3 separate regions of the Homo sapiens genome follow, and regions 1 and 3 are each linked to region 2. The links come from fine-mapping of genetic effects on gene expression. A gene starts in region 2. Each other region holds a variant in brackets. All regions are shown on one strand. Distances are from middle to middle.

Evidence for each region. PIP is the estimated chance that this variant, and not a neighbour inherited with it, causes the effect. A credible set is the group of variants that fine-mapping cannot tell apart.
Region 1: its variant is the best candidate, but not a certain one, in a credible set for the expression of DAB2IP in tibial nerve (GTEx, PIP 0.54).
Region 3: its variant is the best candidate, but not a certain one, in a credible set for the expression of DAB2IP in whole blood (TOPMed, PIP 0.84).

What each region holds. Positions count from the first base shown.
Region 1 is chr9:121,801,398-121,805,637 of GRCh38, reverse strand. No RefSeq gene overlaps it. Among named protein-coding and RNA genes, the nearest start is that of DAB2IP, 150 kb to the right of the region's middle. The variant A/G (reference allele first, on the strand shown) is at 2,097.
Region 2 is chr9:121,649,984-121,654,223 of GRCh38, reverse strand. DAB2IP (DAB2 interacting protein) reads right to left here and starts at 2,590. Exons shown (of 16, transcript NM_001395010.1): 1 at 2,325-2,590. The coding sequence starts at 2,448. RefSeq lists an enhancer at 4,013-4,240.
Region 3 is chr9:121,724,525-121,728,764 of GRCh38, reverse strand. The region is part of intron 3 of DAB2IP (DAB2 interacting protein); the gene reads right to left. Among named protein-coding and RNA genes, the nearest start is that of DAB2IP, 75 kb to the right of the region's middle. The variant A/TA (reference allele first, on the strand shown) is at 1,722.

The DNA of each region.
Region 1 (4,240 bases), 150 kb before region 2:
ATGGCCGAATGGTGTTCCATTGTATATATGTATATGTATATATGTGTGTGTGTGTGTGTATATATATATACACACACCATATTTTCCTTATCCATTCATCTGTTGATGAGATTTCTAAGCAGCAGGTAAGCTCTTGTTATTAATTCCCACTTTCATTGCTCTGTGGTTAAGAAATATGGCCTTTCCTTTATTGAGCTTACCACAGGCCAAGCATCATGTTAGGTGATAATTATACTAGGTTGAATAAAATTTGAGCCCCACAGCCTAATAACAGAGAGCATAAATAAATCTACATTTACAATCCCAGGAATATAAGGATGGTTCAACATATGTAAATCAATGTAATATATTGTATCTTCAGAATGAAGGACAAAAACCATATAATCATTTCAATTGATGCTGAGAAATCATTTAATAAATTCAACATCCTTTCATGATAAAAACTCTCAAAAAACTGGGAACATACTCCAACACAATAGAAGTCATATATGACAGACCCACAGCTAGTATCATACTGAATGAGGAAAAACTGAAAGCCTTTCCTGTAAGATCTGGAACAAGACAAGGATGTCCACTGTCACCATTGTTATTCAACATAGCACTGGAAATCCTAGCCAGAGCAATAAGACAAGAGAAAGAAATAAAGAGCATCCAAACTGGAAAGGAAAAAGTCACATTATCCTTGTTTACAGATTATATGATTGTATATTTGAAAAAAACTAAGCAGTTCAAAAAACTATTAGAACTGATAAACAAATTCAGTAACATTGCAGGATACAAAATCAACATACAAAAATAAGTAGCATTTCTGTATGTCAACAGAACAGCCTCATAAAGAAATCAAGAAAGCAATCCCATTTACAACAGCTACAAATCAAAGAAAATACCACCAGTAATCCGATTTACAATGGCTACAAATCAAATAAAATACCATCAGAGAAATACAAATCAAAACTGCAATGATATATAATCTCACCCCAGTTTAAATGGCCTTCATCCAAAAGACAGGAAATAACAAATGCTGGCAAGGATGTGGAGAGAAAAGGGAACCCTCATACACTGTTGGTAGGAATGTAAATTAGTACAACCAGTATGGAGAACAGTAAGGAGGGTCCTCAGAAAGCTAAAAGTAGAACTATCATACGATGCAGCAATCCCACTGCTGGGTACGTACCCAAAAGAAAGGAAACAGGTATATCAAAGCAATATCTGCCCTCCCATGTTTATTGCAACATGGCTATTCACAATAGCCAGGATTTGGAATCAATCTAAGTGCCCATCAGCAGATGAATGGATAAAGAAAATGTGGTACATACACACAATGGAATACTATTCAGCCATAAAAAAGAATGAGATCCTGTCATTTGCAACAACATTGATGGAACTGGAGGTCATTATGTTAAATGAAATAAGCCAGGCACGGAAAGACAAACTTTGCATGTTCTCACTCATTTGTGGGAGCTAAGAGTTAAAACAGTTGAACTCATGAAGATAAAAAGTAGAATGACGATTAGCAGAGGCTGGGAAGGGTGTTGAGGGTGAGGGTGGACGGGGCAAGTGGGGATAATTAATGGGTACAAAAATATAGTTAGAAAGAATGAATAAGACCTAATATTTGATAGCGTAACAGGGTGACCACAGTTGACAGTAACTTTTTGTACATTTAAAAATAACTAGGCCTGGTGCAGTGGCTCACACCTGTAATCCTAGCACTTGGGGAGGCCGAGGTAGATGGATCACCTGAGGTCAGGAGTTCGAGATCAGCCTGGCCAACATGGTGAAACCCTGTCTCTACTAAAAATACTAAAATTAGCCGGGCGTGGTGGCATGTGCCTGTACTCCTAGCTACTCAGGAGGCTGAGGCAGAAGAATCTCTGGAAGCTGGGAGGCAAAAGCTGCAGTGAACCGAGATTGCGCCACTGCACTCCTGGGTGACAGAGCAGGATTCCGTCTTAAAACAAAACAAAACAAAACAAAACAAAACAAAACAAAAGACCCTAAACTAAAAGAGTATAATTGGAATGTTTGTAACACAAATAAGTGAGAAATGCTTGAAGTGATGGATACCCACCACCCCCAAAAAAAGTTTGCGATGC[A/G]ATGTGACATGCAGTGGCAGAGGGAACCCCAGCCCCTATATGTTCTTTAACAAATCTCATATATTTTTCTCTATTTAGGTTGATTCCTTTTGTGTTTCTATTACCTAAACATTCCTGGACCAAAAAATATAGATATTTGTTATTTTTATTTGCTTTTCTTGAATTATTACCATGAATGAGATATTCCCATTTATTTATTGTCCCTTTAATTTCCAATTATTTCTCTTTTGCCTTATTCTTGGATGCTTCAAGCCGATGTTCTAGAATGGATCACTGATTTGACTTTTCAGCACACACATTCTGTTGTCCACCATCAGCAATGACATTCTTTCCTTCCAAGTTCTTGTTTTCAGCCCGTTCCTTTCTCCTAGCAGCACACTCCTGTTTATTGAGGAAACATCACTTGAACCACTCCAGCATTTATTTAAGACCCATTAAGAGGGTTCTGCATCTCCGACATGCTCTGATGGGGAGCAAAGCAAGACTCACCATTGCCCTGTGTTGCAGGTTAGCGGGCTCATCTATTCCTGTAGGGTGCCCTGCTCGGTGCAGGGAGCAGGGAGCAGCCCCACCTCTCCCTCCTGTGGGTTGCTTTCTCCTCTGATGAGCATTTGCAGGTTCTTCCTGATTTGCCTGATGCAGGAGCTTGCTTCCCGGGGGTGCCTGTTAAACTTCAGATTCCATGGAATTGGAGGTACAGATGCAAACCCATGATTTGTAGAATGTGTATATGCACTTTTGTGTGCACGTGGATGTGTATATGCACATATATGTATTTATTTCCTAGTTCTGTCTGCTGACAAGGTCAAGAAGAAAAGCCATTCTACTAGCTCGCAGATCTTGGTTCTTAATACCATTACCCAGGGTTTCTCGGAGAAATGACTAATTTGAGAGCTTGGGCAGGGTAGGTACATTGTGAGCCTGGGACGTTTTGTTACACCAGAAAATAAGGAATGATCAAAAGCACTTTTGGGGGAAATGTCAGCAGCTTAAAGGGGCTGCCGGTGGCAAAATCTAGGACTATTTGAGCACCAAAATAATAAAGTAATGAAATATAAACCCTTAAAAATGGAAATTTCTGAATCTATACCAATAGTAAATAGATTTATCAATATGTGGGGGAGAAGGAGGACCTATGCTGACGAGAGAATTCTGAGAGTCAACCGGCGAAGTGGAGAGATTGTTAGAGTTGGAAAATCATCTTTTGCAACTATCCTAGTAAAGATGGGATCAATTAAGAATCATTCATGGTTGCTAAATCTAGGGGAACATTCTGATGAGGAACAGAATGTTTTCATGGTCTCAAAGTGTCTCCCCACAGACTGCTTATTAGTTGCAAAGAAGATCAAAAAACTCCAGTAATTATACAGTGAAGAAATTGGACAACGCCTTGATCGAGTGATCAAAATTAACATCACCAAGGAAGGACAGATGGCTGTCTTGTGCCTCCAGATGTGCTCCTCTGAGAAGGACTCAATACGCTCTATGCAGGATTTTGGCTAAGAATGAAGAACCAAAAACTAGTCCCAAGGAAACATCAGACAAATGCTTTTCTATTTTTGAAAAAGGTGGGTGTGCTTGGTCGTATTCTTCTCAAATGTCAATGCCATAAAAGATCACAAAAGGCTATGAAAATGTTCCAGATTAAAAGAGGCTAAAGAGATATGACAGCTAACTGCAGCCCCTGCCCCTAGGCTGCCTCCTGTACTACAGGGGAAAATTACTGAAAAAGGACATTATTGGTTCGACTCAGAAAATTGGAATGTGAATGTTGAGAGTAGATAAAAATGTATACCAATGTTAAATTGACTGAAGTTGATTATGTAAGAGAATATTCCTAATCTTAGTGAAAATATACTACTGAAGTGTTTAGGTTAGATAAAGGGCTATGATGTATGTAACTTAACTTCAGGCAGTTCAGAAAATAAATTGTGTGTGTATGTGTGTGCATGTGTGTGCGGAAAGAGGGAGACTGAGAATGATAAAGCTAAGGGGGTAAAAATATTAATAGATTACAGGTAAAAGGCACACGGTATTCCTGGTACCATTGATTTTAGCAACTTAGCTGTAAGTCAGAAATGATTTCCAAAGCAAAAGGCTTTTTAAAAACTTCTAGGCTGGGCGTGGTGGCTCACGCCTGTAAT
Region 2 (4,240 bases):
CCGTTTTCCTTCTCCCTGACTGCGCAGTCTGTTCATTCTGTCCAGAGAGAAGACAGTAGCTCACCCTCAGCTGCAGCCTTAGTCCCAGGCACTGGCTTCTGGCCCTCACATGACCCTGTCACTGCTAGCCCCATTGACCACACAAGGTCACTGAGGCTTGGAGAGGTAACTGGCTGTAGAATAGTTGTGTGCACAGCTGAGACTTGAACCCAGATCTGACTCAATTACTCCCTCTGCGAAGGGAAACCCTATCCATTTTGTGAGATCCCATCCAAATGTCACCTCCTCTGTGAAGCTCTCCCTGATCTCCCCAGATATAACTTCTGTTCAGAGACAGTCTCCTCCCCGCTCTGCAGGCCGTGAGCTCCTTCAAGCTGGGACACAAGCAGTGATCCTGTGTATGTGGGGTCTGGGAGCTGGGGCTCAGGTGACAGCCCCTGACACATTGATTATCCCCTGCCTGGTCAGCTGAGCAGGAGGTCAGCTGAACAGGAGCGAGACTCCCATTACAGTCAGGGATGGAACTGGGCTGAGGTGAGAAGAGGAAAAGGTCACACAGGGCATTTCTGAGGCAAAGGAGGGGCGGGTGGGTGAGGTGACGTGAGGTGGGTGCAGAAGGAGAGGCCCCAGGGTGGTCTGAACAGTACTGGGCATTTTCAAAGCTCCCATTTCTCAGTTTCTTCACTGAATCCTCCACATACGGCAGGTCCATTTTACAACCAGGAAAACTAAGCTCAGAAAGGGGAAATGACTTGCCCAAAGTCACAAAGCTTGAGCCCAGATTCCCGGTCTCCCAGACCAAGTCCAGGGGAAGGGAGTAAGTACAGAATTAACAGTACTAAGCCTTTCTCCAGGTCTTAGCAAGTACAGAATTAAATAGAAGGACAGAGATAGAAGAACCAAAACCTGAACCACTGAGATAAAGCCTTCCCCAGGTCTTTAGTACTCCCTCCAAGGAGTACTAAAGGCTTAGTACTCCCTCCAAGGAGTACTAAAGGCTTAGTACTCCCTCCAAGGAGTACTAAAGGCTTAGTACTCCCTCCAAGGAGTACTAAAGGCTTAGTACTGTTAATTCTGTACTTACTAAGTAACTTAGTACTGTTAATTCTGTACTTACTAAGACTTCAGGAAAGGCAGGAGTGGGGGGATTGCAGGCTTTGAGAGACCCTTGAGGACTGAACTACCAGCACACACCTGTGCACACACTTAGCCTCAGCTTGAACCCTTCTGTGCACAGGGAACTCACTACTTCCTGAGGAAGCCCTGGACTGCACAGTGCTACTCAGACCTGACTGTGGGAAAAGTCTTCCCCATTCTGGTGGAAGCAACCGAACACTACCTGCCTGCTTCATTTACCCTCACACCGACAAGAAAACTGAAGTTCAGAGGCAGCTCAGCCCAGGTCACACAACGGCAGCCTGCAGGGTGGGAATGTGGCCCCTCTTGGTCTACCAGATTCCCTGCATGGCATTTGTTGGCACAGGGCCCGGCTTCCCACTTTCAAGATAACCTGATGGTGTCAACTCGGCCCAGGTCCCTGCTAAGGCGCCGTCTTTCTCCTCCCTTCCACCCCACGGGCACCCTCGGTGGGCCTGAACCTCTGCCTAGGACTCCAGCCTCCCCAGAGCCCCTTTGAAGGCCTCCTCCTCCCAGGGGCTTCCCTCCCTCCTACTCAGCCAGGGAAGGAAGTCCCGGCCACCACCCGCCCAAACGCAGCCCCCGGGATCACACGCATTTCCAGCCGAGGATCCTGTTACTGGAAAAAGAAAATGCTGCTCGCACCTCCCCCTCCGTCTCGTCCTGCCTCCTGAGCTTGATGGAGAGAAACTTTGCAAAGGAGCTGGCGCCCACCCGCTCGAGGGGTCACGGTTCCTTCCCTGAGGTCCACCCACTTGTCCTAGCACCCAAGAGGTGGGGAGCCCGTTAAGTTCCTGGAAAGGGAAGAAAGAAGTCCGCGGCCTGGGCTGGGAAGGCAAGGTGTGGGAAAGCTCAGATCCACCCTGGGTTACTTTATTGCCCGGCTGCTGAGTAAACTGAGGCACAGTGGGGTAGGAGGTCTGATCTGAGATGCGGAGAAAGATTCCAGGCTCCCCTCTCCCTGTCCCTGGCTTAAGAGGAGACCCTAGAGCCTCGGCTTCCCCCGGCGAGAGGAGGACTAAGCAGAAGCTGGGGGAATGGGGGGTCCGGCAGACTCAGGAAGGGGCGGATGAGGAAACCCCCGGCAAATGGCTGGAAGGAGGATCCCGGTCCCTAGCATCCCAGGGCATCAGGTGGCTTAGTGGCCTTAGGAGGGTCTAGGGGTCAGGGGTCGGGGTGGCGCCTACCCCTGGCAGGCCGGGTCCGGCTGCGGGAGCGGCTCCTCTGTCGCTGCAGCCGGGGCCGCCTCAGCAGCCGGTAGTAGTAGGAGGACCTCCCGGTGCTCTTCCTGGCGCTGCCGCCCGCGGACATGCTGCCGCCCGCCGGGCACCGGGCCGGGCCTGGGCGCGCTCACACGGGCCCCATCGGCCGCTCCGGACAGCCCGGCGGGCGCCCACGCGTTCTCCCGCGCTCGCCCGAGCGGCCGCCGAGGCCCTGGCTGCCCCACAAAGTCGCTCAAACTCCTCCTCCGCCTCCTGCCCCCTCCCGCTCCCCGAGCAGCCGGCCCCGCGGCGGGGGCTGGGGACCCGGAGGCCGGGCTGGCACCGGCCCGGAAAGTCAGTGCGGGAGAAATCCCGGCCTGGAATCGGCGGGGCGAGGCGGCCCGGAGTTTCCCCGGGACCCCAGACGGGTCGTCCCGAGGGTTCTGGCTCCCACCCCCGCCCCCGAGGGTTCGACCGTCGACCTGAGGGCGCACCAGGCACCCAATCCCGCCAGCGCGGGTAGACGGTGCACACCTGCTTGTGCGCTCTCCGGAGCCCGGGGTAGGACGCATGCTTGGGGACGGTCACCTTCAATTAGGGTCCGTTCCTGCCCCAGGCTCGCTGGGCTGAGAAACGACCCTCACTGCTCCGCAGGCCCTGGCCCAGCCAGGTTGAAAGACTCCCCTGTGATGCAGGATACTTGCCTCTTCTTTACGTTTTAAAGGTTGTCCCGTCTGATACACGTATCATTTTTATGTAATTAAAATTACGGTGTCTGTTTCAAGCACTCAAAGCACTGAAGGCAGGGCAGAACAATCCCTACCCTACCGTAGGCACCAGAAACTCAGGGTGGCAGAAGGAAAGGTACCAACTCCCTCTATTGCATTGGCTGAAAAACTTTCTCCAAGTCACTCCTCAGCTCAAGAGCTTTCCGTGGCTCCCCAGAGCACAATGGCAATACGTCTAAACATCCTTGTTATTTGGACCCCAAATAATCTTGCCCCAACCAAAGTCCCCTCCAGCCTCACCTCTGCTCCCCCTAATTCTCACTTCTCTTTGCTGTGCTGCCAGCAGGGACTGCCTTCTTGGCTATTTTCTCCACCCGACCAAAGTCCACCCTTTCAGGACCCAGCTCCTCCACCCTTCCCTAACCATGGCCCACAGTGATCTCTCTCTCTCCCCGCCCCTTATCTCTTTAGCAATATTCGTCGTTTAAATTATTAAGACACCTGCCTGAGCTGCCTCCTTTGAAGTACAGAGGGGGAAACTGAGGCCTTGGCAAGGAGGTCTTGCCTCAGTCACATGGAAAGTGGCAGAGGCAAGTGGTCTTAGCCTGGGGCTCTCAACATTCAGACTTAGGGGTGGGGGGTGTGAGTCACCGCAAGTGCCTGAGGCCGGCTAGGGGATCTTCCTCCAGAACAGTGGGGAAGGTGGGGCCCTGGAGTGGGCGGGGCCGTCTGGGCAGAAATCCAGGCCGGGTTTTGCACCTCACAGGGGAAGCCCCCTCCCTAGCGCTCTCAGCCAGCGGGGAGGGTCCCTAGTCCTGCGGAGCCTGTCTCACAGCTGGAAGCCAGGCGCCTTCCCTGACCAGGGGGGAGGGGCAGGAGGGGTGTTACTCCAGCAAACTCAGTCTGAGGAGTCCAGAGCTATCAGCTGCCCTGGTCCCCTCTTCCCTGAATACTGGCCAATCCCACAGGAAGATGGAAAACCAGGGTGCCCAAGAGGACACCCTTAGCCTCCTTTGGGTTAGGCCAGGGGTGCCCAATCTTTTGGCTTCCCTGGGCCACACTGGAAGAAGAAGAATTGTCAGGCCACACATAAAATATACTCACACTAACCATAGCTGATGAGCTAAAACAAACAAACAAACAAAAAAACCACACACACAAAAAAACCTCATC
Region 3 (4,240 bases), 75 kb before region 2:
CTAGATAGAATTCCACACTAGTGCATGTTGAAATCAAGAAGCCCCTGCCCAGCCCACCTGCAGTCATTCTAGAGCTCCTGGGCCAGCTGCAGGCCTCCCCACCCTCACTGGCTCCTCTTAAGTTGGGCACTAATGCCCCTCTCTGATACAAGGAGCTCTGGAGGGTTGGGTATGTATTCTTGGCATGGAGCAGGCCCTGTATCTGAGAACAGGATCTCAGTAGCATTAATAAGACCCGTGAGTTCCCTATTGGCAGGCATATCACAATGCCTACCTTACATCTGAGAAAACCCAGTCTTTGAGTTAAGGAACGGGCCCAAATTCACGCAACTAGCAAAAGCTGCAGTGGAACGGGACTCAAACTTGGATCAGACTCCTCCCTCTGGGGTCTGCTGTTCTCACTATGGCCTGAAACTGCAGTTCCCACAGACCTCTCTAACTGATGAGCCCACAGGGTGTTACTCCAAAACTGATCACAGGATGCCTCTTAGAACCAGGGGCATCAACAGACTGACCTGGGTTTTGAGTTGAAGAAACTGAGATTCAGAGAAGTACCATGAGTTGCCCAAGGTCCCAAGGGAAGAAAGGAGAACAAGGGCCTAGAACCCAGGGCCTCCTGCCCTGGGATCGCTGCTTTTGCATTCAGATCTTTCAAAACAATTCCATAATATTCTCCCCTATAATAGCTGGGTTGGTACTTTAACCATCCCCTGTATGCCCTGAGCCCAAAAAAGACCCAGGCAGACAACAGGTGCTTATGAAATGTTTGCTGAACTGGACTGTTTTCTTACAAAAAAAGACAACACTGAGCAGCTGGAACAATGAAGGCATGCAAAGGATGATGGGTGGTGGCTCAGGGACAAGGGAGAAGGCAGACAGCCCTGTGTGGGAGAAGGAGATGGAGGTGGGAGAGCCTGGCTACCCTCAGCTTGGGAAGGCTTCCTTCAAAGCATTTCCCTGCTGGATGCCTGCCCAAGAGAGAGGCAAGCAGCTGATTCTCGGCTTTGAGGGAAAAGGAAATACACAAGTGTTAACAGATACATTAGCTCCTCACCTGCCCCTGCAGTGGGGGCCCCCAACATTCCTTTTCTCACCATTTCTTTGGGCCAAGAAATTGAGGCTCAGAGAGATGAGGTCACAGAGTGGTGGAGAGGAGGGCCCAGTCTCTTTCTTGCTCCGCCAAACAGGCTCTCCTGTTGGGCCTTCCCATCACACCTCCTCACTCCTCTGATCCCTGGCTTTTTGAATCCTAAGGGAGCCTTGGCAATTATGGTGAAGACAGTTGCCCTCACCCTTGCCACACCCCCACTGCCATGCTAAGGCACGCTGGCGCCTCTATGTGTAGGCACTCTGCTAAGCCTCCCTCTTAAAACATATGTTAATCCTCACAAGTATCTTAGGAAATGGTTACACTTTTTGTCCCCATTTGACAGAGAGGGAAACTAAAACTCACTACAGAGCAAGTCACCTGCTAGAGGCCACAACGCTGGGAAGCAGCTTCACCGCGGGCAGTGCAGCTCAGGAGCCTGAACTGTTACATCAGTGTCTCTGCTTCAAGGTGGGGCTTGAGGGATCTCCAGATGGGGAATGGAGGTGAGGGGGTAACGAGTGTCCAGGCCAAGAGCAGGACACAAGGTATCACCCCTCAGAGTGCTTTATCCTGCTGGCACTCATTCAACTGTCCCCCTGCCTCCAGGCAAAGCTATACATAAGCCTGCAGT[A/TA]AGTCCAGCACAATATTTTTGAGAGACCACCCCACATCCCTACTCCTCTCCACCTCCCATCCCCAGCCCACCAGCATTCCAGGGTGGGGAACTGAGCTCCTGGCAGTTGGCTGAGCTCAGCTGGCCTTGGCACCAGTTCCTGAAGTACAGTATGAGGGAGTAGGGTGGGGAAAGAGACCCTTCCCCTTGAAGATAAAGGGGAATACAGGGCTGAGCCCTCAGTCGCCAGCTTCTTCCTCCCTGTCCCAGACACCTTCTGTAGAAAAAACCCAACTCAGTTTCTCCCCTTTCCTTTTATACTCTCACAAAGCAGAATACTTCCAACACCAGATGTGGTGGGGGCGGGAGGGGTTGTCCCCACACACCAAGCAGGCGATTAGTTGGGCAGCAGACACCAGCCCAGATGTCTTCTAATTTTGTTCCATTTTGACATTATCTACCTGGAGATAGCATCAGATCCACAGGTTGAGGGCTCAGTCCCCAAGACTATCCCCCCATCCTTCAGATGCCAATTGCAAGCCCCGTGTTGGTTTACCAGTGCTTCCCACCGACTGGCTATCAACTGGGTTTCCCATAAACCCCTCTTTGGGTTTGATTAATTTGCTGCAACAGCTCACAGAACTCAGGGAAATATTTACTTCTGTTTGCCAGTTTATTATAAAGGGATACCAATGAAAAGATGCATAGGGAGAGGTATGTGGGCAGGGGCGTGGAGCTTCCATGCCCTCCCTAGGAACCCTCCAGGAACCTCCAAGCATTCAGCTATCTGAAAGCTCCCCAAGCTTTGTCCTTTTGGGTTTTTATAAAAGCTTCATTTCATAGGCATGATTGATTAAAGCACTAGCCATTGGCGACTAACTTAACCTTCAGCCTCTCTCCCTGCCCCAGGGGCTGTGGGGTGGGCTGAAAGTTCTAACCCTCTAATCCTGCCTTGGTCTTTTCTGTGACCCCTTTCTGAAGCCACCTAGGGGCTGCCAGCCATCAGTCAACTCATTAGCAAATAAGTAGACATCACTTTAAAGAATCTAAGGATTTCAGGAGTCGTGTGCCAAGAAACCAAATACTGTATATATTTCCCAGTGTCACACCTTTCCACACCTACCCTTACACACAGCCAAGGACTTGCTTCTAAAATCGCTGATCTATCTAGGTCCCATCTCTTCTTAAAATCCTTCCCAGCTACTTTCAGGATCAAGTCCATACCCTGCTGCCTTCCTGCTACCTTCCCCTCTATTCCTTGCACTCTCCAGGCCCAACACATAGCCGCCCCGTGCCCAGTGATACCCAACTACCTGGCATGCCCAAAAGCCCTTTCCCTCCCTCAAGGGAACCTTCACCTTCACCCTGTGGCCCAACCACCAACTCAGTGGAGCCTTCCTTGAGCGCTGGTAGAGTCCTCACTCCCTTCTCTGTTCACGCACAGACCCTCTAAGGTGAGGTCTGTTGACTCATCTGCATTGTCAGACAGCAGGAGCCCTTGAGGGCAGAGATTGGCGTGACTGTCCCCTACCCCCTGCCCACAGCAGAGCGTACACAGAGGAAGCACACAGGAAACAATGGCTGGAATTTGCTGCACTGGGTACCCCAGGGTCAAAGAGGCCAAATCTAAGGGTGACCCTGGGCAGTGGAGTCTCTTGGAGATAGACCTGACCATAAGCCCCCGAGCCAGGTCAGACCAGGGCCCGCCAATTGGCTCTCCCAACCTGGCTCGTTAGGGGAATATGGACACTGCCAGGCCCAATCTTTCCATGGACGCCTGACAATGGCTGTGTCGAGAATCACAGGAGATGAAGTCATCGCTCCCAGAAATAGGCTGATTAAGAAGACGTGACGACAACGCAAACAGCAAGGCTGGACACACACACACATACACACGCGCGCACACACACTCACTCACCATGTGTTTCTCCACCCTGGGAAGCCGGGCCAGGCCTGAGCTCCTCTGGGAAACAGAAATCGTGCCAGGAACCAAAGCCAGCACAAGAAGCCTGGAGGCGGCTGGTCTTTGGGAGTGGCTGGTGCCGGGGGTGCTCTCCTCAGAGACTGTCTTGCAAGGGTTCCCTGTCCTGACCCTCACTGAAGTCCCCGACCTGCCCCTGGCCCTCTCAGACCCTCATGGTTCACCCCCTCCTTGGCCTCACCCCTCAATCCCCAGGGTAAAATCCTACCCACCTTTTTGGGCCCCCTCCCATTCCTGTCCATCCTAGATTCTGGGGAGGTGGGAGTGTCTACTGGCTGAGACAGGGCTCAGAGGCCACAGACACTGGGCTAAAATCCTGGTTCTGTCCCGCTGCAGCTGTATGACATTGGGCTAGTCAATCCACCTCTTCTTTGAGTCTAGTTTCCCCATCTGTAAAATGTAGACAGCAATGTGTCCACATTATGGGGTACAATTAAATGTTTGTTTGTTCATTCACCAACTTTCTGTCAGGCCCGATTCTAGGTGCCAGAGACACATCAGGGTACAAGACATAAATGTTCTACTTGCATGTGGCGTACAGTCTAGAGTGTGGGAAAAG